Linked DNA regions of Homo sapiens: regions 1 and 3 are each linked to region 2. Evidence: fine-mapped expression QTL. A gene starts in region 2. Each other region holds a variant in brackets. All regions are shown on one strand. Distances are from middle to middle.

What was found.
Region 1: its variant is fine-mapped to the expression of PGPEP1L in hippocampus (GTEx, PIP above 0.99). The same link has a PIP of 0.9 or more in lung.
Region 3: its variant is fine-mapped to the expression of PGPEP1L in prefrontal cortex (GTEx, PIP 0.92).

What each region holds. Positions count from the first base shown.
Region 1 is chr15:98,950,905-98,961,137 of GRCh38, reverse strand. IGF1R (insulin like growth factor 1 receptor) reads right to left here. Exons shown (of 21, transcript NM_000875.5): 21 at 1-4,077. The coding sequence ends at 3,696. Among named protein-coding and RNA genes, the nearest start is that of PGPEP1L, 52 kb to the left of the region's middle. The variant AGG/G (reference allele first, on the strand shown) is at 3,278.
Region 2 is chr15:99,003,103-99,013,554 of GRCh38, reverse strand. It overlaps PGPEP1L (pyroglutamyl-peptidase I like), which reads left to right and starts at 5,763. Exons shown (of 5, transcript NM_001167902.2): 1 at 5,763-6,196; 2 at 7,899-8,126.
Region 3 is chr15:98,962,865-98,971,737 of GRCh38, reverse strand. It overlaps IGF1R (insulin like growth factor 1 receptor), which reads right to left. Exons shown (of 21, transcript NM_000875.5): 21 at 7,208-8,873. PGPEP1L (pyroglutamyl-peptidase I like) reads left to right here. Exons shown (of 5, transcript NM_001167902.2): 3 at 580-702; 4 at 2,087-2,313; 5 at 3,041-3,509. The coding sequence starts at 2,105. The coding sequence ends at 3,260. Among named protein-coding and RNA genes, the nearest start is that of PGPEP1L, 40 kb to the left of the region's middle. The variant C/A (reference allele first, on the strand shown) is at 4,207.

The sequences.
Region 1 (10,233 bases), 52 kb after region 2:
AGATCCCCGGGGTCCTGGGAGAGATGGGTCGCGTTCCAGCAGGAGGCTCCTGAGCGCCTTCACTTAGGCTGGAATTGCCGAGGAGCCATCCACGCTTAGGCAAAGCTGCCCGCCACACTTCCCAGCGAAATCATCAGTGCCTGTAAGAGCAGCTGCTGGAAGAGGGGAGCGAGCCGTCTGTCCTGTGAGCAGCAGGACCAGGGAGACGGAGGTACAGCCCTGGCGGGGGGGGCGTGACGCCACGAGCCTCGGCGCCGGCCACTGGGCTTTCCAGCCGGAAGGTTTGGTACATCTCTGTCTACCCCTAGGGAAGGAGGTGAGGGAGAAGTTGAGAGGGCAGCCTGGAGGGGGAGGGGACTCTGCTCCTGCGTGTGTTCTATCAGGGACTGGCTGTGAGGTCAGGAGCCTCTGCATTCTGGCGCACAGGCTGGGTGACTCTTGCTCTCCAGCTGCTGCTGCAGCTGCACCTTTGTGCTCAATGAATGCAGCAGCCATGGCCGCACGGTCCTGCCTCAGCGCGAGCCTCCTGCAGGGATGGAGCAGCAGCAAGGGGAGCAAACCCAATGCCCCACGCCTTTACCCTGGGGATTCGCACAGAGATGGTGCTGCCTGGACACCTTCCTCTCCTCAGAACCTGAGGAACCACTGCTCTCTTAAGGACGAAATGTGTTGGTCATTCCATCTGCACAGAAGCAGTTTGTTCCAAAGACAACCAGCCAGGGACAGCCTGGTGGCTCCCCCAGGTGTGCTCTGGTGCCCTCGTTGGCCTCACAGGGCCACCTGGCTAGGAGGAGGAGAAATCTAACACCTTGGTGGAAACCAAGATAGAAAACAAAACAAAAAAAGCAACACAAAACAGGACATCTCAGAAAAAGGCAAGCTGTCTGAAATGAGCAGAGAGGTGAGTTAGTGTTGCTTTGACCCCGGAATACAGCCTGGCTTCCCCCTGCATCACCTGGGTGTGGCGCCTGTGGCGTGGATGAGGTTACCAGTATCAACGGCCTATTGTCAGGTGCTGAGAAAGGTGAGATGTATTCTTTTGTCTATATACACATATAAAAAATAAGAGTGAGGTAGATAAATGTTTGGGGGAAAAAAAACCCAAAAAATCAAGAACTGTCCCATCACTCTCACACACACACACCCCACACATACACACACACACACCCTTTCCTTGAAATTTAAATTCATAATGGGGCTTTTCTACAGTGATTGAAACTGGTAATTTATCACAAAATAAATTAAAAGAAAACTCCTACATATAATACCTTTTTTTTTTTTTTAAAGGGAACACGCTATGGGATAGAGACTAGAGAAAGCAGTGGGACAAACTGCTGACCAGCAAAAAAGCCGTATAAACTTTCTTTTCTGTGTTGAATCTTCAGTCACAACTAGCAATCACCGTATCCCAGCTTTGTTCTTACTCCTAAACATTTCTATCCCAGAAGCAACTCTTGTGCTGTCATCTCTCTGGTGAGAAGTGCTAAAAATGAAACAAGACAAGACCCCTGGGCCCCAAGGACCTGGATTCCTGGCCGAGGGAAAGTGGGCCAGCACCACAGCCCTGGTCCCCCAGCAAGAAGCAAAGGGGCTCTTGGGCCACCGTGGCGTCTGTGCTGCCTCCACCTAGCACTCCAGCGGGCACAGCCCTGAGGGTGCCGCCCTGGGCCAGCCTGGATCCCGGGGTCCCACTCAACGCCAGTGCGAAGGAGTTCCCTTGGGATGTTCTGGTTCCAAAGACAGGTCAGTCGGTCCGGTGAGGGGGGTGGCGAGGGCCACAACAGGCCCTGCCGGACCACGCTCTGCTGCTCCCTTGGACTCAGCAGCTGTTTTTCGTGGGATGGAAGGATTAAATAGCCATTAAGAAAAATAGTAATCCAAATGCCTAGTGTCTGCGGTTAACACTGCTGTTGTACCCAAGAATTAAAAAAATATATATATATGTGTGTCACAACCTAAGCAAAGGCAAGGGAAAGAGAGGGTGAGGCTTCTCAACCACGGTGAGTGGAAACACTGAACAAAGACGTGTGAAATATTTAACCTTTGTTTTTCTGACCTGAGTTTGTATCATGTCTTGCACTGTAACAGGCTCCAATGCTGTGAGGGCAGGCTGGGGAGAGGAGCGCGGCCCTCTCAGGATGGGTGCCCGGCCTGCTTTCTGCCTCGTGCCCAGAGAGCCTACGGGTTAGAAAACAACTAAAGGGGCAGGTGGGAGCAGGGATGGGGGATGTATTTATAAAAAGGCATCCAACAGTTCATGGCAAATTATGTGATAGAAGTATCCATTACCGGGAAAAGAGGAAGAAAGTCACGCACTCTAGTACAAAGCATAAGAAGTTTCTTGGAGTGAGCAGAAAGGGGAGAGGGTGGACCTGAAGGTTTTCATAGATTAAATCCACAAAGATCAAGAACAAAAAAAATAGCAGCTTTTTTTTTTCTGTACAGACGTATAGATGAATATCTGAACCGTAAAAAAGTTATAAAAGTGACATTAAAGACGATGTGTATGCAAATGTTTCATGGTCTAACATAGAACTGTAAGACCCATGAAGAAGTCCTAGGAACAGAGAAAATGTCAACAAAGCTTAGAATGCTTGAATCCATTGACTGCTTTTCTTCTTACTGCTGTTGTGGTGTTTGAATTTCTTTCCTTGCAAACCTGCATCAACAGTGGGGCTGAGTCCCTGGAAACCCCTTCCCATCTGTGTCCTTGGGGGCGGGCGGGGGAGCTGGGGCTGGGAGAGAAGCAGGCATGGGGCCCCTTGACTCCAAGCCTGTCCGCCAGGCTGCTTCGGGGCCCATGGCCACCAGATTCTTGGGGGTTGGGCAGGGGGCTGGGGAGGCAGGGCAGGGAAGCCGGTTCAGCTTCTCCCCACCTTCACTGAGAGAAAGACCTATTGTGTCCAGTTCCCCCAAATAATAATCTAGTCAGAAGCAATGAGACCTGTGTGCCTGTGGCCTTGAGCAGCACAGCAGGGGCAGTCGGATGGACGGAGTGTGTCGCCAGCGTGTCTCTCAAATGGAGCAACCAGCTGCCATGCTCACCCATGCCTCCGGACACGAGGAATCAGCGCCGGGCCGATGAGGGAGAAAGTTCAGGATTTTGGCAAAATTAGGCAGCGTTAAAATGGTAACAGCCTTGGATGAACGATGGCCCTTTGTAAATTTCATGTCCCTAGAAAGGTGAAAGATAAAGGTAAAAATTTCCATCTCCACGTGTTTTTTTGTAATGACCCACGGTGTCAGGCGGGTGTGTACAGTGGTTGGATGGGGCCAC[AGG/G]GACAGCCACTTCCTCAAACTGATAAAAAGGGCTTCCCAGCTGGACTTGTGGCAATTATTTTTCCGTTATGAAGCAGAGAGGAGAGAGAAAGGGAGAACAGGGAAGGACAGGGACAGAGTGAGGAGACTGGTTCTCAAGTGCTCTGTTGCTATTAAGTGTTGTCATTAAGGTTCTTAAAGGCCCATGTCAGTTAAGGGTTTGGGCAGGGAATAAAAAGCTGCTTGCATATTGAAAAAAGGAACATCCCAAATGTGTTTTACTGCAGAGAAGCTGTCTCCCGCGGGCAGCAAGGGCAGTTCTGAAGATCCACTGAGGTACAGGAGGCTTGTGAATGGATTGTTAAAACTCTCTCTCCCCCCCCACCCCGCTGCGCGTGCGCACACGTTACTGTTTGCACAGATTCAGGATCCAAGGATCAGCAGGTCGAAGACTGGGGCAGCGGCAAGGCCCGCTCGTTCTTGCGGCCCCCGTTCATGTGGGCGTAAGGCTGTCTCTCGTCGAAGCTGGCGCGGAGGACCAGCACCCCAGGGCCGGGGCCGTTCTCGGCCTTGTGTCCTGAGTGTCTGTCGGGCAGTGGCAGGGAGGACGAGGAGGCCGAGGGGTCCAGGGGGACGCTCTCCATGTTCTCTGGCTCCAGGTCCAGCTCCTCCGGCTCGGGCAGCTTGTTCTCCTCGCTGTAGTAGAAGGAGACCTCCCGGAAGCCAGGCTCCATCTCCTCTTTGATGCTGCTGATGATCTCCAGGAAGGAAGGCCTCATCTTGGGGTTATACTGCCAGCACATGCGCATCAGTTCAAACCTGCAGCCAAGACACACGGGAGGGGGTCCAAACCGGGAGGGCGCACATGGCCAGGAGGCTTCATGGGCCGCCTGCAGTGGTTTCCCGCATACAAGCGTACGGCGGGAGCACTGAACACAGCCCTGCTGCCCCTCTCCATCCCTGGCTTTCTGCCTGGATGGCCAAGTGGCCTTCAGAGTCTCCTGTTTTACCTCGTACGGTTCCATTCTCTTCCCCCAGAACCCAGAACCACCACGGTACAAAACCCAAACTCTCCTTTCCCAAGAAGGACTAATCCAGGTCCACACTGTCCATCGTGACAGCTGTTATCTATGGTGGCAGTGCTAAGAAACAAAAATAACCAGTTTTCTATCTGAGGCGTCTCATGCAGGCACTGCTGAAACATCCTTTCCAGAATTAGCAGGAAACCCCTGGTTTCTCACCAGGAAGGCTGATGAGTGACCGCAGCTTCCCCAACAGTGCTCTCTCTCCGGTTCCCACCTGTGCTATTTCTAAGCTTCCTCCTGGTGCAGGGCTACCCCTGGCAGACAACCAAAGGAAGAAGGCACTGTGAGGCCAGGCTTGCAACACGAAGAAATGCACACTCCGAGTCTGCTGTCTCCATCTAGCACGTGCTCGCTCCAGCCCTGCACAAGCAAGCCCCAGCCGATGAGCCAGGCTGTTCTGGACCAAACGAGAGGCCCCGTGTAGACCTGAAGCCAGATTCCAACAAGCCAGCAAGGAGAGCCCTGGGCACGAGTCCCCTCCACACGCAAGGGACAGGCAGAACAGGATGACGCTTGTGCTGTGTGTCGGTCGCATCGGCTGGGCTCCGACAGCACCTGGGCTGCAAATACCTGTGAGGCCCTCAGAGTCACATGGAGCAAAGGGAGTCCTGCCGGCTGTGGCCGGGGCTCCCCAAGAAAACAGCCGGCCACACGTGGACAAGGAAAGCCGGCTGCCCTGACCCAGGAAAGGCCCGGGCTTTGACAAGCTTCCAGAATGCAGAGACCCAGCTAAACAGACTTTTGGGGCAAAAAGCAGCTGGCTACCATCCAGGGCTGGCCATAGTTCTGAGGAGTGACCGCCAACAGCCCTCTCTTACATGAGCGTGAAACCAAAGTGCCTTCCTTTCCACGTCTGTTCTCACCAGGAAGTTATCCTCTTTATTTTAAAATTCTGGCTAAAGAGATGCTTTTCCATAAAAGTGGCCACACAGAACTCTCCACATCTAGGAAACTCAAAGCACACCCAGTGGCATCTAGCCTCCTGTCAGGGTGGCTGCTTGACCACAGACTACCTGCCCGTGTCTGGCCTTCAGGGAACATTCCAAGGGGAGGCCCCTGATGTAAGAGAAGCCACTGGGCCTGGAAGCTGGCCTGCCAAGAGAAGGGCTCCTATGGCCACCTGGCAGCTTCCTTCAGGTGGAGAAGGTGCAACCTTGAGGGAGGGTGGGCCTGGGTGTGAGGGAGAGCCATCCAGAATTCACTAGAATTCAGCGTTCTAGAGCCCGGGGGCCTGCGTCTCCACAGGGCCTAACCCGGGGCTGCCCGCCTCTACATCAGCTGCACTGGCATGGGGCCACGCTCCCTCATTTCCATGTGGGCTGCAGCTGCTTTCCAGCTACAACTACCAGCTGAGGACATTAGGACAGAGACTGTGGCCTGCAAGTCTAAAAATGTTTATTTACCACGTCGCCCTTTAAAAGAAGGAAGGGTGCAGGTTCCTGTTCTGGGGAGAAAAGAATTAGACAAAATATGAAGGCCCCCACAGTATGCTTCTTAGATTTGGAGAGTTCCATGTGGCCACTTTTATGGAAAAGTATCTCTGTAGCCAGAATTTTAAAAGTCTACCCCACGGTAGAATGCCATGTGCACGCTAGGTGCCAGGCAGCGAGGCAGTTATGTGTGTGAACTGCTGAAGTCCTCACGAGTTTGTGAAGCAGGTGCTACTGACTATAATATACCCCCATGTTACAGATGAGGGAACAGAAGCACTAAGATACTAAATAATTTGTCCAAGATTACAAAATTCATGAGGGTGGAGCTGGGATGGAGTTCTCTGCGCAACAGAATGACTACACTTTGATCACCAACGATCCTGGAAAAAGGAATTTTTCTCAACCTAAATAAGAGTAACCCTGGGGCCACCAGGAGACCCTCCCTCACCTAACTGTCCAAGGAACAGTCACAGATGTCACAGGGATGTGGTTTGCATTGATAAAAGCTGGCAGCTTGATGACAAATAAGCCTGCCTTTCCAAACTCCCCATCACTTCCTAAGAAAAATGATTGGGGTTAAAAAAATTAAAATAGGCCATAACGACATGAAATGCCTGGGCTGTGAATTCCTCTCCAGCTGACTTACCCCTGGGCAGAAGCGTAACTGGGCCAAGAGCATGAGATGTGCTTGGCTCTGTGCCCTGTGGCCAGGGACCGAGGAGGTGCCACAGGAGAGCAGCGAGGCAGTGACATCAGCACAAACAAGCCATGTGACGCCTCTTTTAAACCATTCCAGAGTAACAACCCTTCCAGTGCTGCCCATGAAAGGAAGTCTTTTTTGCTCTGTGGGATTCAAGACCTTGTTTACTATTTCCACACACACAAAAAATCTCCATTAGACTCTAGAAGGATGTGTGAGCTGATAAAACTCATCTTTTAAAAAGCACAATTTTTTTTTTTTTTTTAACCACAGGTCAGTTCTGGGGAGGCTGGCGCCATCCTTCTCGAATGCTCTCCCCTTTGGGGGACACATACCCAGCCCTTCTCCTGGAACAGGGACAAGACTCAAATGGAATTCCTGCCCTGCTGGGAAGCAGCTTCCTGGGGGCCAGCTGTGACCCCCCCCGGAGGCTGGGTGACGGTCAGCAGGGTGAGCACACAGAGGTGCCTCCGTATTCTCACTTCACTCTTGGCCCTGATGTCCTGAACTGGACAGGCTGTGACCTGTGTGCGATGTCAGCAGGCCACGAGGCACCCGCACATTCCCACACGCTGCCGGGAATCAGCACGGCCCCAGCCCGGTGCCGACGCTCACCGGATTCCCAGAGGACCTGCGGGGCTGAATGTGTCTCTCCCTCCTGGCAGCCCTCAACAGTAAGGGTCGTCTTAGGAACCACGCCTCAGCCAGGAGCGGCTGTGGACATGGGGCCTGTGTGCCTCAGTGAGCTTACTGGGGCTAACTGAGCAGGAGCGCCCTTCCTGTCTGTCTGGGTCCCACTCAAGCACTCGATTCCCGCAGAACCAAACCAGGATTCCAGCGATGGGAAAAACTGTACTGGAAAACTACAAAAAACATCAGATTTCACTAAGTTTGTTTCAGACTCATCTATGAGTTGATAATGCTCCAGGCTAAAGTTCAGATTCCCTCCTGAATCCTGTAGACCAAAGACGTCTCTGGCAACAGTCTGGACACGTGGAGCTGTGGAAGTGTTAGCAGCAGAACAAATGGCTTCCTGGCCCAAGTCTTCCACGGCTGCGTTCACACCTCTGCCCTGGCCCTTATCCCGCAGCAGCCGGGACCTTTTACGTCACTACGTTTCCTGAAAGCCAGGGCCACTCCTGGCTCATCTGTGTGACCTCAGGGTCAGCACGCACCCAGAGGAGCTCAACAGTATCTGTGGCATAAATACCGAGATCTGGGCTGAAATAAGGCTGAGGACGGGCTTTGTCATCAATCTAAAGTACAGACCCAGCAGGGAACCACAACCCAAATCTGATGTTGTGATACCTGCTAAGTTAATTCACACTGAGTCATGGCGTTGAGACTCAGACCTCGACACCTTGTGGCTTGGGGACCACGGAGTCCTTCCTCTAAAGCCAGAACACTCGGTGACACTGAGGGGTGAGAATCTGGCTACTTCCTGATGGTGAGCTCCAGTCCACCTGCAGCCACCGAGCTCCTTCAGCCCCTAGTGTCACCAGATGGTGCCTGTTCAGATCTCAGAACCACACAACTCACACACTTTCTCACCTGGGACCCGGCAGAGGTTTCAAGGCAACTCCCAAGGGCTCAGGGACTCTCCTCTCCGGGATAAACGGAGGCCATTCTTTCATGTCTTGTAGCAACAGAACTCCCATGCTAGAACCCTCCTTTCTCAGGTAAGCTCATCAGTAAACTCAGAAGGACAACATGACACTCCCTATGAAACCAAGTTGCCTCCTTTCATTCTACTCTTTTCTTGGAAGGGAGAAAAATTTTCTCAGGAGAAAACATTTTCTTAGAAGGGAGAAAAATTCTCGATGGCAAAGCAGAAATGCCTCCTGAACTAAACATTGAATGTCAGAGTAACCGCTCTGAGTAAATTTCCTTGTCACTCTATGCTGAGAACAGGAAGTGCCCTGCGTTTCCCATGGCAGGGGCTGCGTCCCAGGCAGTTTACATTAATAGTAAAAGCCCAGTCACCTGGAGGTGGACCAAGTAAGAATCCCACAAGTCTCTTGTAGATAAACGTTTACCCGAGTCAAAGAGAAAGCACAGAACAATACCGCTCTCCCTCACCCACCCTAAACCACAGAAGCAGAACTCACACCTGCTTTCATGGGCTGTTTCTAAGCTTGCTAAAATACCACCAGTTCTAGTATTAGCCTAGATTCTAGCACTGTACCTTTATGCAGATTCAGTGGTCATCAGACCTCTTACTCCATGGCTTATATTCAGACTTGAAAGCATGATTTTTCTCATAATGGCTGGCAAGAAAACAGTGGCTGCGCTGCTCAAAGTGTGGAGCAGATGGTCACCTGTGAGGGGCAGTGTGTGTGTGTGTGTGTGTGTGTGTGTTGGTGGGGTACTGGGGGGTAGCCAGGCTCCCGGATCCCCAGTGGTCCTCTCCCCTGTGTCCTGGAGCTCACATCCCCACGTGATTGACTCTCACATGGTGTAACCTGAAGGAGAAGGTGAGAGCCTCAGTGTGACTTCTGAGGTTTGGTCAGAAAGGACGTCGTGCCTTCTGCTCAGGTCCTGGATCTTTTACTCTAGGGCACAGCAGGCAAACTATGTACCTGTGGGTAAAATCTGGCCTGCTGCCTAGTTTTCCAAGGTCTATGAGCTAAGAATGGTTTTCATGTAAATGGCTAAAAGAAATTCAAAATAAGAATATTTTGTGACAACACAGGGATGATGTGGAATTCAAATTCCAGTATTAAAAATAAAGCTGTATTGGAACACAGCCACGCTAGCTTATGTGACGCCCACAGCTGTGTTTGCTCCACAGTGGCAGAGTCCAGTAGTCACAGTCAAGGTCGTATGGGCCCACAGAGCCAAAAACATTTTTTTAGCCGGCCTTTTAGAGAAAGAGTGTGCCGAACTCTGCACTCAGAGAAGCCAGCTACACATCCTGAGACACTTGGGCAGTGCTACGGAGAGGCCCACGTAGAACAGGGCGATTCATGCAGGGCATACTACCTATGCAGCAACACCTTGGAAGTGGGTCTGCCTCCCCCAGGCAAGCCTTCAGATGACTGCAGCCCCGGCGGACAGCTGGGCTGCAACCGCGAGAAGGGCTCCAAGCCAGAGCCAGCCAGCTATGCCGCTCCTGCGTTCCTCGCCTTCAGAAACCTCTGAGAGATAATACATGTTTACTGTTGCTCTTAACTAGTAGGTTTTGGGTAGTTTGTTATACTGCGATAAAAAACTAACACAGAAGGGGAGAAGAAGAATTTCTATACTGGGCAAGAAAAGGTACTAAGTGGTCTTTCGAGTCTCTTCCAAGTTTGGATTGTGGAGTTCTGAAGAGGCCATGCTGGGAAGTTTCCTTGATGAGGGCTCCAGGAAACCCAGTGCCACTGCATCTGTAGGTGCCACCCTCAGAGAAGAGGAGCCTCCCATCACTGGCCCAGGCCCAGGGCACCAGCCGACTTTCTGGTTCTGGCCCTGCCTTGATGGGACAATGGGAGCCCCCACATGTGCTAGCTGTGCAAGGGTGATGCCTTCACTCTGGCTTTCCCTGGTATCCTTCCTGCGCCACCTTTCTGAATTCCACACGAAGTGTCCACTGCCTGGGATACACTTCAGCTGAACCTATGTTCGGAAGCAGCAGCTAATGAGCATGCCGCCCAGCCAACGTACTCCCAGAGCACAGGGGTGTGTATCCAGTCTTCCCCACCCCATGCCCTCCGCTGGCCGGCCATTTACAAGGAGCTTAGGGATTCAGTATTTGTAGCAACACTCAAAGTGCTTT
Region 2 (10,452 bases):
CTTCCCGGTTTCCCCTTCCTTTAAAACAGATTTCTTTAATCATTTCTACGTTTGTCCTTTCGTTCAGTCCTGTAATGACGGTCTCAAGTAGTAACAATAACTGTCGTAGTGACGGTCTCAAGTAGTAACGGTAATAACTGTCATAGTGACGGTCTCAAGTAGTAATTGTGGCAGTCAGCCACAGGCACACAGGACTAAAGGTTCATTAATGTCTGCTGTAAAAATGTAGAATATATTTCTTCAAGGTCTGAAGTATACATTTTTTGATGTACGTTTTTGTTACATTTTTTAAAGTTCTCTTGTTTTTAAAAAATAACATGTATAGGGCCGGGCGCGGTGGCTCATGCCTGTAATCCCAGCACTTTGGGAGGCCGAGGCGGGCGGATCACGAGGTCAGGAGATCGAGACCATCCTGGCTAACACGGTGAAACCCCGTCTCTACTAAAAATACAAAAAAAATTAGCCGGGCGTGGTGGCGGGCGCCTGTAGTCCCCGCTACTCCGGAGGCTGAGGCAGGAGAAGGGTGTGAACCCGGAAGGCGGAGCTTGCAGTGAGCCAAGATCGCGCCACTGCACCCCAGCCTGGTCAACAGAGCGAGACTCTGTCTCAAAAAAAAAAAAAAATTACATGTATAGAGCTTGAACAGTTCTTTTAAAATATGTATGTGTGTGTGTGTGTATACAGTATATATAAAGAATAATGAACTGAAAAGTTCCCTGCTTCTCATTCAACTCCTATATCCAAAGTCAGTATTAGTCAAATACCTCCTCTTTTCCTTTTAGTTTCTGAGTTTTGCGTCTCGCATGAGTATTTTGAAACTACTCCAAAACTAGAAAATAATTCTTCTAAATTTACTTCCAGTATTTTTACTGTCTTGATTTTCAGATTTGAATTTTAATCCAATCATAATTTACTGACCTATATGGCATAAGGAATGGATCTAGCTATATCTCATGGTTCCCACACCATTAAATGGTATATTCTTTCCGCTACTAATTTGAATTATCTCTTTAACTATATATTAAATTCTCATACACATTCTAGCTGTTTTATTGACAGTTTTCCTATTTCTACAACAACACTGCACTATTTTAATTACCCTAGCTTTTAGCATATATTTGGATATCTGGGAAGGCAAGCCAGTTGCATCTAGTCTTTAACATCGGTTTGCATTAACATTTTTAAAGTTTCGAATCTTCCCATTACAGAACATGGCATCCTTTGTTTTATTCGGGTCTTCTATGTTTTTTTCTTAAAGTCCCACAGTTTTCTTTTCTTTTTTCTTTTCTTTTTCTTTTTTTTTTTTTTGAGACAGAGTTTCACTCTTGTTGCCCAGGCTGGAGTGCAATGGTGCGATCTCGGCTCACTGCAACCTCCTCCTCCTGGGTTCAAGTGATTCTCCTGCCTCAGCCTCCTAAGTAGCTAGGATTACAGGCATGAACCACTACACCTGGCTAATTTTTGTATTTTTAGTAGAGATGGGGTTTCACCATGTTGGCCAGGCTTGTCTGGAACTCCTGACCTCAGGTGATCCACCTGCGTTGGCCTCCCAAAGTGCTGGGGTTACTAGCGTGAGCCACCGCGCCCAGCTAATTTTTGTATTTTTAGTAGAGAACAGGGTTTCACCATGTTGGCCAGGCTTGTCTGGAACTCCTGACCTCAGGTGATCCACCTGCCTCGGCCTCCCAAAGTGCTGGGATTACTAGCGTGAGCCACCGCACCCCGCCAGTTCCACAGTTTTCCACAAAAGGATCTCATACATTTCTTGCCAGGTTTATTCCTAGAGATTTCTGATATTTGAAGGGCATTGTGGATGGGCTCTTTTCTCCAATTACATTAGAATTAGTTATTGCTGATATATAAGAAAACTCTTAGGCCCTGAGAGGTGGCTCCCACCTGTAATCCCAACACTTTGGGAGGCCAAGGCAGGAGGATTGGTTAAGGCCAAGAGTTCAAGACCAGCCTGAGCAACATAGCAAGACTCCATCTCTACAAAAAAAAAAAAATTGAAAAATTAGCCAAGCATGGTGGCACACACCTGTGGTCCCAGCTACACAGAAGGCTGAGGCAGGAAGATCGCTTGAGCTCAGGAGTTTGAGGATGCAGTGAGCTCTGACAGTGCCACTGCACTCCAGCCTGTGTGTCGTCAGAGAGAAACACTATCTCTTTAAAAAGAGAAAGCTATTAGCTTCAGTATATACCAGTCTCATATCTAACCATTTTTAAGAGGTCCAGTAATTTTTAAAAATCAATGATCATAAATATTATAATCGGATTGTCTATAAATAAGCTGGATCGCTAAGCCTTCCTCAAACCTACTCAGCCACTTAGCACTCACTTCTGACACGAAAGTTACCTTTGGCCCCAGTCAAGAAAAAAAGAAAAATGCCTCTTACATGTGTATACTGGAAAATAGCGGCCCCTCGAAGGCCTGGTGCATGTTTTAGTGTGGCCCCTCTTCCATTCCAAGAGGATATTAAGCTCTCTGCTGCACCCTCCATCTGGCCTCATTTGTCTACACAGGAATTTCCTCAGTGTTAAGAACACAAATGTTCCAGTCATTCCTAAGATATTTGTGAAATTTGAAAGAAAAATCCAGTATTTAAACAATAGGGGTAACAAGCTACTGGATTTTAACAAGTAGAAAACTTCCTTTTGCAACAGTTGTTACTTTGCAGTCAAGGAGCTGTAGTCCCTAAAAAAAAAAGTGATCAAGGCTTAGCAAAAGTCTGAGGGAAAAATATAAGACAGAAGAAAAATAAAGACAAATCCTTCTCCTACAAAATGTAACAGAAATATCACCTTGCGACAGAGTCTCACTCTGTCGCCCAGGCTGGAGTGCAGCATGCGATTTCGGCTCACTGCAAGCTCTGCCTCCCAGGTTCACGCCATTCTCCTCCCTCAGCCTCCCGATTAGCTGCGACTACAGGCACTACTAAAATTAGCCGGGTGTGGTGGTGCACACCTGTAATCCCAGCTACTCAGGAGGCTGAGGCACGAGAATTGCTTGAACCGGGAGGCGGAGGTTGCAGTGAACCGAGATTGCACCACTGCACTCCAGCTTGGGCCACAGAGTGAGACCCTGTCTCAAAAAAAAAAAAAAAAAAGTCTACTACATTTATTCATTTATTTTATGGCCCTTTTCAGAAATCGTGTGCTGGCTGGCCCCTGCTGGGGTACAAAGCTGCAGAGGCAGAGGTATAGAGGAGGGTGAGTTCTGAATCTGCCTTGGTAGAGTGACATTATTGGAGGATCCCTTAGTGCTTTGACAAGAAGCAATTTGGCTATGGGTTGTGTTTTATAGTAGAGCTAAGTCGCTTATCTGGAAACAGTGATGTTTGACATGGAGAAAGACTTATGTTATCATTATTTTGGAAATCACAAGTGCTTCTTGCTGATTGATTTATTTTCTCCCCACCTCCCAAAGGAATTTGACCAGTTTGATTAAATTTCATTTATGTCAAGTGTACAAAATGTGTTGTAAGAGCTGTTTGTGTCAGAGACAGTAAACAAACCCCTTTAATCTTTTTTCTTGCGAGAGCAGGAAGTCACCACTTGCCAATGAGAAATTTAAAACAAATCCCACAAAGTTTTGAGTTTAGTTCAGCACGTGAAATAGTTGAGGTCTTGGGATCTTGTAATCTTGGCAACTCCCATTTGCTGTCCCTGGTGAGAACACTTGTGTACCGTTGCTTACTTTCCGGTTCACTAAGAGGGTCGCACCTTGCCCTCTTAATCCTAGAGTCAAATCTGATTACAAACATTTTCCTCTCGGGAATCCCGCTTGTAAGGAAGATCACTGTGCTCTCTGTTAAATAAAACAGCTCCATTTAGTTGCCTTATTCGTTCTCAGGCTTACTGTATTTCATCAGCCTAAAGACTGTGTTTGACATCAATTATTAGAGACCATTTGTTTTTACAATGGAAAAAGAAATAAAAGTGCAGATGTTGAACCTCAAAATCCATACTTCTCAGAGCTATTTTCATTCCAGAAAGTAGGAATGTGCTGGGGGGTTCTTGTGTGGGGAGAGGGGAGGTGAATGAATACAAAAATAGACATATCACTGTGACTAAGTAAAATATTTTGTGTTGTTTTTTCTATTAATTTCAAAATTAGAGAAAACTTTAGAACAGAAAAAAATAAGTGAATTATGGGAAAGTGAAAACTGCAGGACACATTCCAGTTTAGTTAAAATAATAGCTCCTGTCAAATCAAAAAAAAAATGATGAAAATTTCAGCTTTGTTATCAGAAAAGTAGTATGGTTAAAGATGGGCAGTCTTTGCACTTAAGGAGTCTCCTTAAACACAAGTTCCCATTCCCAGACCTCATAGGTGAATGTTGATAGCAGAGTTGGACCCTAGCAGCAACCAACTTTACAAATGTGGGCATTTCTGGACGGGCGCGGTGGCTCACGCCTGTAATCACAGCACTTTGGGAGGCCGAGGCAGGTGGATCACGAGGTCAGGAGTTCAAGACCAGCCTGGCCAAGATGGTCAAACTCTGTCTCTACTAAAAATACAAAAAATAGCCAGGGCTGGTGGCAGGTGCCTGTAATCCCAGCTACTCCGGAGGCTGAGGGAGAGAACTGCTTGAACCTGGGAGGCGGAGGCTGCAGTGAGCCGAGATCGCGCCACTGCACTCCAGCCTGGGCAACAGAGCGAGACTACATCTGAAAAAAAAAAAAAAAGAAGAAGTGGGCATTTCTTAATGGTCCAATCTCTTCCTTTAACTGTGCAGAGGAAGCCAAGCCCCCACTGAGAGGTGACAACATGCTGGTAGGCCTCGCAGCCGTCACTCACTCTCGGCTCCTCTGCCTGGGCTCCCACTTTAACGGCACTTGAGGAGCCCTTCAGCCCGCCGCTGCACTGTGGGAGCCCCTTCCTGGGCTGGCCAAAGCCAGAGCCGGCTCCCTCAGCTTGCGGGGAGGTGTGGAGGGAGAGACGCGGGCGGGAACCGGGGCTGCACGCCGCGCTTGCGCGCCAGTGCGAGTTCCGGGTGGGCGTGGGCTCGGCGGGCCCCGCACTCCAAGCAGCCAGCCCGCCCCGCCGGCCACGGGCAGTGAGGGGCTTAGCACCTGGGCCAGCAGCTGTTAGTGCTCGACTTCTCGCGGGGCCTTAGCTGCCTCCGTGCGGGGCATGGCTCGGGACCTGCAGCCCGCCATACCTGAGCCTCCTCCCCCGCGTCATGGGCTCCTGCGCGGCCTGAGCCTCCCCCACGAGTGCCGCCCCCTGCTCCACAGGACCCAGTCCCATCGACCACCCAACGGCTGAGGAGTGCAGGCGCACTGCACAGGACTGGCAGGCAGCTCCACCTGCGGCCCTGGTGCGGGATCCACTGGGTGAAGCCAGCTGGGCTTCTGAGTCTGGAAGGGACTTGGAGAACCTTTATGTTTAACTAAGGGATTGTAAATACACCAATGGGCACTCTGTATCTAGCTCAAGGTTTGTAAACACACCAATCAGCACCCTGTGTCTAGCTCAGGGTTTGTGAATGCACCAATCGACGCTCTGTATCTAGCTACTCTGGTGGGGACTTGGAGAACCTTTGTGTCCACACTCTGTATCTAGCTAATCTAGTGGGGACGTGGAGAACTTTTGTGTCCAGCTCCAGGATTGTAAACGCACCCATCAGCACCCTGTCAAAACGGACCAATCAGCTCTCTGTAAAACAGACCAATCGGCTCTCTGTAAAATGGACCAATCAGCAGGATGTGGGTGGGGCCAGATAAGAGAATAAAAGCAGGCTGCCCCAGGTAGCAGTAGCAACTTGCTGGAGTCGCCTTCTGTGCTGTGGAAGTTTTGTTGTTTTGCTTGTTTGCAATAACCGTTGCTGCTGCTTACTGTTTGGGTCCGCACTGCCTTTATGAGCTGTAACGCTCACCGTGAAGGTCTGCAGCTTCGTTCTTAAAGCCAGCCACATCACGGACCCACCGGGAGAAACGAATAACTCCAAACACGCCACCTTAAGAGCCGTAGCACTCATGATGAAGGTCCGTAGCTTCACTCCTGAAGTCAGCGAGATCACGAATCTGCCAGAAGGAAGAAACTCCGAACACATGCGAGCATCAGAAGAAACAAACTTGGGACACGCTGCCTTTAAAAACTGTAACACTCACCGCCAGGGTCCGCGGCTTCGTTCTTGAAGTCAGTGAGACCAAGAATCCGCCGATTCTGGACACACCATGACGGAACTAGGTAAGTGATAGGAGCTAGGAGAGCTGCTCACCAGAGGAGGTAGAGACCAAGTCTACAAGTGCATCCGGGGTATATTGAGAAACCGGGTAACTTCTGTGAAATGAGGCAAAGTACAAAAATCCTCTGCATCCCACTCATGGCAAGGTGGGCCCAGCTTCTCAGGACAGGGAGTGGGAGACTAGTGGGAGCAAATGGCGCTTCCCACCTGTTGGCAGTGAAGAGGCCTGCAGCCCACACCAGGAGCTAATTAAAGGGAATTGTTCCTGGTTCAGAATCCCAGAAAGCCACCAAGGGGGGTCTAATCCGCGGGGGTGATCCCAATTAAAAGGGAGCGCTTTATATCAGGAGGACAATTCAGCAGATGGAGCCACGTGGTCCTGCTGTCACACTGAGCTCTCTAGAGGCCGCAGGGTGCTTGAGAGGCTCTGCCTGCTTCCCTGAAGGGAGCTTCTCCTCCCCAGACCTAGATGGGGACAGAGAATCATGGGTCTTCTTCCTCTTAATATACAGCTTCAGGAAAAAAGTATTTTCAGTTTAAAAAAAAGTTTAAGAATATTTTTAGAGACAGGGTCTCACTCTGTCACCCAGGGTGGAGTGCAGAGGTGCAGTTACGACTGACGGCTCAAGTGATCCTCCCGCTTCAGCCTCCCTGAGAAGCCAGGACTATGGGCATATACCACGTTTTGAAAAAAATAATTGATGCAGTCTTGCCACGTTGCCCAGGTTGATCTTGAACTCCTGGCCTCAGGCTATCCTCCTACCTTGGCCTCTCAAAATGCTGAAATTAAAGGCGTGAGCCAGTGCACCTGGCCAAAAGTTTGTTTTGTTTTTAAATAGAATTCTCCGAAAGATCAAGATATTGGAAAACAGCTTTTTCGATAGAGGAAATAGCCTCAAATGTTAGCCTTTTTCAGTTATTCTGACACATTAAAAAGAGGACTGTCTGCAGAGCCAGGTGGCATGCCACGGCTGTGGCTCACTGTCAGTGGCATGTTTAAGGAGTCCAGCACAGTGTCAAGAAAGCACTTTTCGCAGGTAGAACGCAGGGTGGTGAGCACAGAGCTAGCAAGCTTGCACAGACGCTAGCTAGGTGGCAAGCCTCTGTTCCTCAGGGCTGATGAAGCTGGGGACAGTGCCTGGGGCACAGAAAGAATCCATACAGGATCCGGTGCTGCGATCCTCGTTTCTCAAAACAGGAAACCTGAGCACAGAGGTTAACTTCCCTGAGGACCCACAGCTCCTAGGCAGCGGTGCTTGCAATCAATATTTTAAAGGCAGGCGCCATAAGATTCATCTATGGTTTTCTCTCTTTTTTTTCTGCTCACATCTCACATATTTTGTGGAATTAGTTTTCAGAGCAATCAAATTTTACCAAATCATAATGGCCAAACACAATGAGGGGCTCTGGCAGGGATTACTAAAGAGGAAAAAATAAGATCTAAGTAAACGACTTGTAGGGTAGCCCACAGTTCCTAGGACAGTACCTCTTTGAGCACCATGTGGTGTTCCGTCCCAGACATCCTTCTGTCCCAGGCAAACCGGGACAGCTGGTAGCCAAACCCTTAGCTCACCTTTGAACCATCCTGAACAACAAAGTGACCCAGACTCAAATGTCCAGAAAGTCCCTGCTGGCGCTCCAACCCGCTGTCCTGAGCTGGATCGTTCTGCTTTCAAGGGGCATTGCTTTATCACCCTCCCCTAGATCCTTGGCCTTTCGGGGCCCAGAACGCTACGGACGCCGGGCGGCCAGGAGGGGTTGGGCTCCCGCTCCACCCCGGTCCCCGGCGAGCACGCGGCCAGGCAGAGAAGGTGCCCGGAGCTCAGAGCGCGCAGAGCCCGGCCGCTGGGCCGCTGCCTGAGCCAGGGAGGCGCAGCGCGAGCTCCCACTTCGTCTTCATGGATTCCCAGCCCAGCTGCGTGGTGGTGACTGGTAAGACTACATAATTTTTTTCTCTCCTATTTGTTGCTGCTTTTAGCCTGCCCCTGGAATGCGCACTGGCCTGATCCTGGGTCTTAAATAGTTCCCTGAGGGAAAAAAAGAATGGCAACTGGTGGTGCTAATAATTCCAGATGGAAACGAACTTGCTGCTGTGCCCTATTAATAAACAATCAGGATCACAGGCATTTCTGCTTCTGTGGCTCATTCGCTTCAAGTAACTCTCGAGTGGCGGGCACGAAGGTGCCACTGGTGGCTTAGGCTCAGACCTTGCCTTTCAACCCAGCAGGGAGGAAGCTGAGGCTGGTACCTGTTTTCCCTGAGTGGGGCCCGAGGCACGTGAGGTATCCCTTGGGGGTGCAGGCTCATAGCAAGGAAGAGGGATCTATACGCCCAGAAACCACAGGGCCCTCACAAGGCTTGCAAACCCATCTACAACAGCCACCCGCAAAGGAACACACAGTCCCCACTTCCAGAGTAAGAACTTCCATTTTTCAGGGAGCTGTGAAGCACCCCCCGAGAGCCACTAGCTGGAGACCCTGAGCCCCAGAAGGTCAACTTGGAAGGAATGGTGGCTGCTCACTCCTGCAAACACCAGCACATCCAGAGTCACCCCCACCCACACTTGCCTCACCAAGTCAGCATCCCAGCTGGTCCCTGGGGGCCTGATCTTCACAAAGGTCTTTATTTTTATTAATTTTTTTTTGAGACAGAGTCTTGTTCTGTCGCTAGGCTAGAGTGCAGTGGCGTAAGCTCAGCTCACTGCAGCCTCCGCCTCCTGGGTTCAAGCGATTCTCCTGCCTCAGCCTCCCGAGTAGCTGGGACTACAGGTACGCACCACCACGCCCAGCTAATTTTTGTATTTTTAGTAGAGATGGGGTTTCACCATGTTGGCCAGGATGGTTTCGATCTCTTGACCTTGTGATCTGCCCGCCTAGGCCTCCCAAAGTGCTGGGACTACAGGCATGAGCCACTGCGCCTGGCCCTATTTTTATTTTTATATTTTTAATTTTTCTGAGACAGTCTCCCTCTGTTGTCCAGACTGGAGTGCAGTGGCTCAGTCATAACTCACTGCAGCCTCAAACTCCTGGGCTCAAGTAATCCTCCCACCTCAGCCTCTGGAGTAGCTGGGACAACAGGCACTCACCACCACACCCCCCAATTTATTTTATTTTAGTTTTTAGTAGAAACAGGGTTTTCCTGTATTCCCCAGACTGGTCTCTAACTCCCGGGCTGAAGTGATCCTCCCGCCTTGGCCTCCCAAAATGCAGGGATTACAGGCATGAGCCATCATGTCCAGCCTTCATTTTTAGTTAGACACATTTGGCCGGTTTTAAGTTTTCTGAATTGTGTTGGATGAAGAGGCAGGGTTTCCTGGATGAATGGGAAATTGAAAGTTGTGTCGCTTAATCTTTTCAGACTATAATTCTAACTCCTATCGACCTTCAGAGAAAAAGTTCTTTGGGAAACCTTTTATCTCCCTTGCTCTTATTTGTGTTATTTTGGTTCTGGAGATTGAATGGTTCAAATTACTCTTGAATTCCTAAGGAAACTGTACTCTAATGCATGCAATGCTTGTCATGAATGAAATATGAACATTGAAGCACCATCTTAGAATCACACTGACCCCTGCCTTTGTCTTGTCAGCCTGTGGTTTGCTGGCAAACTGGAAATTGTTTGATGAAATACCTGATAATCAGCCATGATTTGGGAATGCCCGCTGGATTCCAGAGCGTGGCCTTCCTGTGTTAGAAATGCTTAGAGCTGCCAGGGGCAGTCTCTTCATTTAATTGGATTTGCTTCGTGTGTAAATCTCCTCAAGACAATTGGCATGTAGACAGATGGTGGGAGAACGAGGGCTCCGACAAATTGCTTCGAGATCAAAGTGTTCAGACTGGCACCAACGATAACCACAAGAGTGAGAAAACGTGCATCCCTCCCACGGGCCTCTCAGAATTCTAAGATTTCTCCAGCTCCGTTTGCAAGTTGCACTGGGGGCTGACCAAGTTTAAAGTGAGGTTTGAACTTGAAACACAAGAGCTTCAAACCTTCACTTGCAGAGTTGATTTTTCTAATTTAAAACAGATAAGAGATGTCATATTTGCTGATACAAATATGATTCTAAAGCAGAATGTGATTTTTGTGTGTGTTGCTGCATTTTTATTGTATTTTTATTATCCCAGGAGGTACCTGGCTTCTCAGTGCTTTTTTTTTTTTTTAATCTCACTATTTTCTATAACTGCCCTTTTTTTTTTCTGGCTGTTTCCAAGGGCAGCTAAAGTCTTATTTATTCTGAAGGATTTGGTTGAATCAGAGGACA
Region 3 (8,873 bases), 41 kb after region 2:
TCTTACTTGTGCCAGTGAGTTTAATACCTTCAGAAGTTTTCTTGTTACATGTTAGTATCTGTTTCTTTCAAGTTGAACCCTTTAGATTTGTAAGACAGGTCTGGCATTGATTTCCTCAGCTTTTGTTTGGGAAAGTCTTTATTTCTTCTTCATGTTTGAAGGATAGCTTTGCTGGGTACAGTATTGTTGTTGGTGGGTTTTTTTTCCTTCACACTTTGGATTTTTCTTTTCTTTTCTTTTTTTGGAAACAGAGTCTAGCTCTGTCACCCAGGCTGGAGCGCAGTGGTACTATTTCGGCTCACTGCAACCTCCACCTCCCAGGTTCAAGTGATTCTCCTGCCTCAGCCTCCCAAGTAGCTGGGATTACAGACAGGTGCTGCTGTGTGCATTTGCCTCTCTGGTAGGAACTGTGGCTCTCTTCTTGGCCCCTTGCCACTTTGTGAGCTCCTTGAGGGCAAAGTCCAGGCTGCGGAAGACCCCTGGAAGTAGACCCCAAGGATTGGGTTTTCAGGGACTCTTGGTGCCCACCCCCCCCCCCCCCCCATCAACTGAGGCAAGTCCACCTGCCGCTTTCCTCAGGAGCTCTCCAAGCTGGGCCTGGGGAATGAAACAGTGGTGCAGCTGCGGACTCTGGAGCTGCCTGTAGATTACAGGGAGGCTAAGCGGAGGGTCACCGGAATCTGGGAAGATCATCAGCCGCAAGTAAGTGATGGCCAGAGGCAGTGGGGCATGGGACTGGCGATGTGGAGCTGGAGCCTCTGAACCCCCGGGTCCTGGTTCTAGGGTTGATGGTTGAGGGGCACCCCGTCCCCAGGCCCCACCAGTCATGCAAGGTCCCAGCTGATTGTGTAAGGTTCTGGGTCTGTTTGTAAAAGTTTAAGCCAAAATATGGATTAGATCTTAATAGAAAATCTGGAGAGAAAGGAGGAGGAAAAGAAATGGAAGTATTATTCCCAGCCAGGACTCAAAAATAGTTTCCACCTAAGGGAGAGGCCCTTGGGTTGGGCCCCACACATACCCATGAGGGGCAGGTAGGTTTGAAGGTGGACGTGAGGCAAGGACCTCTGTGCCCAGGGAGCGACTGGGAGGGTGGCCAGCCTAGGGGAGGCCCATCTTCATAGCACGAGCCCATTTTATCTGGACATAATTACTGTATAAAAAACAGATACAACCCCACCCCCCCAAAAAAAACCCCAAACAAGGACCAGATGTGATGAGGTTAATAAAACATACACTATCAAGCCATTCAGACAATGCCCCAGATGTTTTGATAACATACTTGGGCAGCTATTTTTCAAAAAGGAAAAATAATCAGCTTGAATAAATTCTAAGAAGATTTCACTGGATGGCCACTAACTTCCTTTATTAAAGTTTCATTTAAAAAAAGATGCAGGAGGCGGGCACGGTGGCTCCCACCTATAATCCCAGCACTTTGGGAGGCCGAGGCAGGCGGATCACTTGAGGTCAGGAGTTTGAGACCAGCCTGGCCAACATGGTGAAATCCCATCTCTACTACAAATACAAAAATTAGCTGGGCGTGGTGCACCTGTAGTCCCCGCTACTCGGGAGGCTGAGGCAGGATAATCACTTGAACCCGGGAGGCAGAGGTTGCAGGGAGCTGAGATGGTGCCATTGCACTCCAGCCTGGGTGATACAGCCAGACTCTGTCTCATAAAAATAAATAAATACATAAATAAAATATAAAATAAAAAGATTCAGGATTCCACCAAAACACGAAGACTCTGCTGTGGTAGCCTCACCACTTACTAGCTTGCCTCTCCTCCCTCCAACCCTCCCCCCACAAAAAGAGAATACATTACCCTGTAAGAATAATTTGAAGTAAAAAGCATTTAAATGTAAATGCAGCATGAGTTTTTATTCAGCTAAAAGAATCCAGCTGTTTTTCTTTCCAGCCATATTAATTAGGAGACACTGGTGGGGGATCCTGGGGTTTCCCAGTGGATTTGGGGTTTGAGATGTTTTGCACAGAGCCGGGCTCTCAAAAGGAGTGGCCCCTTCTGCACATTTGGTGAGCAGGGTGGGCCTCGTTTTCCTGGGTTCTCTCTGCTGTTACCCGTTCACACAGCTCGTCGTGCATGTGGGCATGGACACCGCCGCCAAGGCGATCATTCTGGAACAGTCTGGCAAGAACCAAGGCTACCGGGACGCCGACATCCGCAGCTTCTGGCCCGAGGGCGGCGTGTGCCTACCTGGCAGCCCAGACGTGCTGGAGTCAGGGGTCTGCATGAAGGCAGTCTGCAAGCGCGTAGCTGTGGAGGGTGTCGACGTGATCTTTTCCCGAGATGCAGGCAGGTATGCTCTGTGGGTGTCAGGACTCTGAGCAGGTAGGAGAGAAGCAATGGCCGTCAGCGTCCCCCCGACCTCCAAGAAGCCATCCTGTATCGTCCAGCTGGCCACTTGGCCATGCGGTGCCGCCCCCAGATTGCCCCTCTTTGCTGTGTGCAGGCCAGCACAGTTGCTCACACCTTGCCTGAGGTCTCGTTTGTGAGACCTGCCTGTGGAAACACGGTCTTTGGTGTGTTGATCTAGGAGAAGAGATGGGAAGGCAGACTTCAAGAGCCACTAACATTTCGTGAATGTTTTCTGATTTTGATTTTTGGGGTGACCGAAGTTGTGAGTTAACTGTGTTGATGTAGCCCCAGATAAAGATTGATTTACCTTTGTTTCTCCAAACTCCGATCCCCAGTAGGTGGTTTTTCCCCTTTCCCCAGTGAATGAATGAGTAAGTGACTCAACGAAGACATGAATGAGAGGGATTCACTGGGATGCAGGTGCTGTGGAATATCTGACCCCTTTCTGCCTTGGCCACTTGCCGGTCATGAGGCCATGAGGCCAAGAGCCAGCTCTCCCCAGCTCATCCTGGCACCATGTTCTTTCTGAGGTGAAACAACACAAGTCTCCCTTGGGTGGCAGTGCTCCCTCCTCAGGCTTTGTGGGTGTTGCATTGCCACTTCTGCGTATGTTTCACTGAGGTTAGAGGCTGGTCCGAGAATTAATGTGGCATTTCCTGTGGTTGCAGATACGTCTGTGATTATACCTATTACCTGTCTCTGCATCATGGAAAGGGCTGCGCGGCACTCATCCATGTCCCTCCACTATCGCGCGGGCTCCCGGCCAGCCTGCTGGGAAGAGCCTTGAGAGTCATCATCCAGGAAATGCTGGAAGAGGTGGGAAAGCCCAAGCACAGAGCCCAGTTCGAAGAAAACTCAACCATGGTCCTTCCAGCCAAAGGGAACTGACCGGGGGATTGCTCCTCTAGAGAAAATTGAATGTTTCAATCCTGTATGTAGCACTCAACTGTGCATTGAGAAACTTTTTCAAAAATTGCTTGTAAGACAAAGAGGGTGGAAAACTCTGAATTAGCCCAACAAAATCACAAAGGGTTATTTTATTGTCAGGAGAAAGAACACTCTGAAAGGTGGACATTTCACAGGGGATGAACTAGCTTCAGTTATGGTTTTCATGACAATAAAATGAAATCCGAGTCATCTGTTTTCTTCCAAAAATCTACACAGTGGGTCTGTGTGATCCTGCGCAGACTGTGGGGACCACAGACCTGTTTTGGAGATGCTTACAGAAGCACAGAGACAGCCGCTGCTCCAGGGACCCCATTCCTGGCCTTTGAGCTTGTGTGTCCAGGTCCTGGGTAGCCTCGAAGCCACCGAGGCTCTACTGTATGATTTCTCTGTCTCTGTGTTTGCCCCTTTTACTACTCATTTTAATAATTTCAAGCATACAGTTCAGTAGTATACAGTACATTTCCTTGTTGTACAACCATCACCACCATCCATCTCCAGAACTTTCTCCTCATCCCAAACTGAAACTCTGTACCTATTAACTCCCTATTCCTTCTTCCTCCCAGCACTTGGTGCTCACCACTCCACCCTCCATCCCTATGAATCTGACTGTAGGTAGCTCATATGAGGGAGTCATGCGGCGCTGGTCCTTCTACATCTGGCGTATTATTTCAGCCTCATGTCCTCCAGGTTCATCCATGTTGTAGCATGGGACAGGATTTCATTCTGTTGAAGGCTGAATAATATTCCAGTGTATGTATGGACCACATTTCATCCATTCAGCTGTAGATGAACACTTACGTTACTTGCTCCTTTTGGTTCTTGCAAATCATGCTGCTACAAACACTGGCGTGCAAATATGTATCCGAGTCCTTGCTTTCAGGTCAAT[C/A]TCCAGAGGTGAATTCCTGGATTCAATGCTAATTCTGTGTTTAATTTTTTAAGGAACTGCCATTTTGTTTTGCACAGGGGCTGCACCATTTTACAGTCACACTGGTAGTGTTTGGTTTGAAGGCGCAGGTTAATAGCCGGGCTTAGCTTCTCTCCATGGTGTCTTCCCTTTTTAAAAGCAGAATCTCCTTTCTGTTTCATGTTTTGTTTTGCTTTTATGACACAGCACCGGGTCTTGTGCCAAGCTTCTCCCAGCAAGATTCTACCTGTTCAGTGTTTTCTAGGGGCAGATTTCCTTTGGGAGTCCCATTGGTAACATCGCTTTTTTTTTTTTTTTTGGAGGAAGTGAGTGAAGGTAGGTGAGCTCTGGGAAATTTCTTGTTACGTTGGTGTGCTTACAACTACCATTTTTCACTTGACTACATTTAAAAAATTCATCAGTTAGTGTTTGGATTCATTCACTATTAAGAAAAGCATTTGCAGCTTCCTAACAAAGGAACCAGGCCAGGCGCAGTGGCTCACACCTATAATCCCAGCACTTTGGGAGGCTGAGGTGGGCGGATCACTTGAGGCCAGGAGTTCAAGACCAGCCTGACCAACATGTGAAACCCAGTCTCTACTACAATTACAAAAACATTAGCCGGGTGTGGTGGTGGGTGCCTATAATCCCAGCTACTTGGGAGGCCGAGGCAGGGGAATCGCTTGAACCCAGGAGGCGGAGGTTGCAGTGAGCCGAGATTGCACTATTGCACTCCAGCCTGGTCAATAAGAACAAAACTGTGTCTCAAAAAAAAAAAAAAAAACAAACAAAAACCCACAAGAAAACCAAAGGAAGCAGTCAAGGCCGCCAGCACGCTTTTTGCATTTGGAGTAGCCTTTAGGGGACTCCCTTTGCAAGTACACCTGGATCATTTGCTAGAAAACAGATCAAAGCCCACATATTGGGGGATGGGGGGAGGTGGTGCTGGGCGGTGTGCACAGGTCTGGCTGCATGGTTGCTAATGTGGAGATCTGTCTCTGCTATGGGCAATTCTGTCCCAGGACACTGGCAAGCAAGGGGCCCCCAGGACTGGGCTCCAGTGTTATATTTCAGACTGCCTGGCAGCATGCCATAACATTTTTTAAATTTTTAGATATTATCCAGTTGGGAGGCCCAGAGCTCCCTCTTCAAGAACTTCCCCATCATTTCCCCCCGCTGTGGCCCCTGAAGTTCTCCAGGGAGAACCCCAGAAGTCTCATTCACACCTGGGCTGTGTACTTCACCCAGCATCCCTTGTCAGTATGCACAGAGCCTGCTTAGTTCTGGCAGTGCTGAAGCCAGATTGAGAACCACAGCAGAAAAGGCTGAGAGGCTGAGTCCTGAGTTGGTAGCTGGTGGGGAGGTGGGGGGGCGGGGGAGGGGTCTTGAGCATGCCTGTATGTTTGCTCATCTGTAAGAGTAATTAAAATCCTTCCTTTGCAGGGTGATTGTGAACATCTGGTGAGAGAATGGATGTGAAGGTCTTTTTAGCAACATTAGAACACTACAAAAATCACACATCTGAGTGAGTATGGACTCATACCTGGACTTGGGGGGTAAATGCAGAAATAGCTCTTGAGGGCTTGCAGTCTTAAGAAATGGCCTGGAGGGGAAAGGTTCTAATGCTTCTGAAGACCCAGCACCTTCATCCTTAGATATTGCTGCTCCTTCTGGCTGGGCAGGCCAAGTGCAGACTGCACTGTGGCAACCTGGAAGGGCAGCATCTACCTGACCAGGGAAGGAGGAGGCCCTGTTGGGCTTTCCAGCCTCAGAATTGAGACCTCCTCATCATCAGTCACCTAATGAAGATCCCCTGAGTGCCAGGCACTCGGTGACAACACTGAGCAGTAACCCTGAAGCAATGCCAAGCTTGAGTACCCTTTTTGAGACAGAGTCCTACTCTGTCACCCAGGCTGCAGTACAGTGGCACAATCTTGGCTCACTGCAGCTTCTGCCTCCTGAGTTCAAGAGATTCTCCTGCCTCACCCTCCCAAGTAGCTGGGATTACAGGCACCCGCCACCATGTCCCACTAATTTTTTGTATTTTTAGTAGAGATGGGGTTTTACCATGTTAGCCAGGCTGGTCTTGAACTCCTGACCTCATGTGATCCACCCACCTCAGCCTCCCAAAGTGCTGGGATTACATGCGTGAGCCACCGCACCCCAGCTGAGAGTCCCCTTTCAGAAAGGCCTTTGCTTTTAGGTGCAAACACTTCTGAGGCTCAACAGGTCTGAAGTAACCATGGTCTTCGGTTTACTTCTACCTATACATTGCTGGACAGCTCTTCTTCTACTGGCCCGATTTTGCTATTGGAGCATAATTTCCCATGATAAAGTTGAAGGAAATGACCAGCTTCTCTGCCTGATGTGTCTGAATCCTTAGTCTGATTCTAGAACACACCTTGCCATACATGCCATTTCCCCTGACAAAAATAATGTTTACATTGTAGGGTCCCTAGGGGCAGACAGAGATCACTGAGCAGCAGCTAGAAAGTAACTAGGACTTTGGAGCTCCTCCAGTGACCCACATTCTGCGTGAGGCCCACTGGGTTCTCACCAGCATCCCCCCGAGGTGGGCATGTCAGCTGTGAAAGACCAAAAAGCACATGGGAAATGTGAAGAACTGAAGTCCTCTGCCTTGGGGTCATGCAGATCAGACTTGCCTTGGCCTGACTGTTGTTAGTGGAAGGTATAGGAAAAAAGTCTACAAATCAGTCGGAACTGCAGTACAGAGTTTCGTAATTTATGTATTCAAATTTCTTTCCAGATGATTTAATGGAGGGAGAAACAGATAGCTTCCCTGTCGTCTTTACTGGCAATCTGCATGCTGAGAAAGCTCAGCTGTCAGAGAAGAGGCAATGCTTTTCTGGAGAACGCTTCCAGGCAACATGCGTGAACACACGTGCCCCACATAGCTCAGCTTCCCTGCCACCAAAGTGTAGTGATGCTTCCAGGAGGGACAAAACCAAACCAGAGACAGAAATGCATACAGAATTATTTTATTTAACTTAAACCATGTAGTACTTTACTAGAAAAAAGCAGAGTAAGAGAAACTAACGTTGCCTTAGCTTCAGCCATTCAAAATAGACAGTTTCTTTTTTCCATTATGTAAAGAATCCAGAGTATATCGCAATAACAGGAATAAATTCTTACAACAGAATATACAAAAACATTTTGAAATTTTTTTCATCTACTGATTTTTTATATAAACAGGATTTTTTAGGAATAATTTATACACAGAAAGTCATTTTATGTAACAAATTGGCCATGTTATTACCTTTTTTTTTCTTACTTAAAAAAATTTTTTTTTAACAAGAAAACTCAGAAAATGCATTATTTGCGGTGCATCCATTCCATCCCGCCTTCTGGTTTGATTTTTTTTATCCCAGACAAAGGGATACCCAGAGGTAGACAAACTCTGGCAAACCTCTCACCTCAACCTCACTGGCTTAGAAAGCAGACAGGTGTTTTCACCGGGCGTCTCTTCCACCGGTGGATGTGTGTGTGCAACGCCAAACATCCAAATGAAAAGTTGAAAACAAAACCCAAATAGTTTCCAGATCTTTCTCCTATGTAGCGCAAAAACCCCAGGTGTTTCCCATGATAGAGATATTGTGGAGTTGGGGAGACATGGCCAACAATCCACTGGAGTTAGAGGAAGTGGAGTCAACTTTAAAACCAATTTTTGTGTATGTTATAGTTTTTATTAAAAATTCTTTTCTGTATTGGAAATACGTATCTTCGGGGTTCTGCCTTAAATAAAATAGGGTCTCTTCTGTGTTCTAACAAAGCAGTAATCAGTCATGATACGAGGCATGTAAGCAAATGGCCTGTGTGCCCCATAGCTGTCATCGTTTATGTGATCACTGTGTATGCTGTAATCATCATGAAAACCATTGGCTGTGCAGTCAAGTCTTCCCATGTCCATGGCACTGTGCTGACAATGACGGCAGCCAGACCAATCAAGCCAGATGCCGAACGGTGCCATGCACTGCTGGGCTCCAACACCTCGGCTGTTTCCATGGCCAATGAGGTTCTTTCCATCTGTTAAAGTAGCTACACTCCAAAGGGAAATGACCAGTAAAAAATGATCCCCTTCCCAACCAGAGGGTTCTGGAAGACCAAGATACTGAAGATACAGAACTACTTTTTAAATCATCATCATTCCTTTGTTATAAACTAGGGCAAAAAGCATGGGGGGAAAAGAGGGTGAACCACGGATGGGGTCAGGGAGAAATCCTTTTTTGGCATATTGTAAAGCTAGCTAGTAAACAGGTGTCCTAAAAAAAAAAAAAAAAAATGGATCACAAACACACATTTGCACACACAGAGAAAAAAAAAGTGTCTTTAAATTATTTTCGGCAATTATAAACTACAAACATTTTATAAAATTATTCTGTTCTTACAAAAATGCAATGAAACATTTAATTAGTTCTTGTAAACCAGATCTTCGTCAACTGACTACCCGTAATCTACTGGACTTAAGAGCCCTATTGAAAACGCTAATGAGTGACTAGTTAAAACAATGTTGACCAGAAAGATGCGGACACACACACGTGGGACATAAAAATGAGTGATCGTTATGTTCTCGCAGAAACAAAACGCTAAAGTCATGCCCCAGAACTGACAACTGACGAGTGCGATGTAGT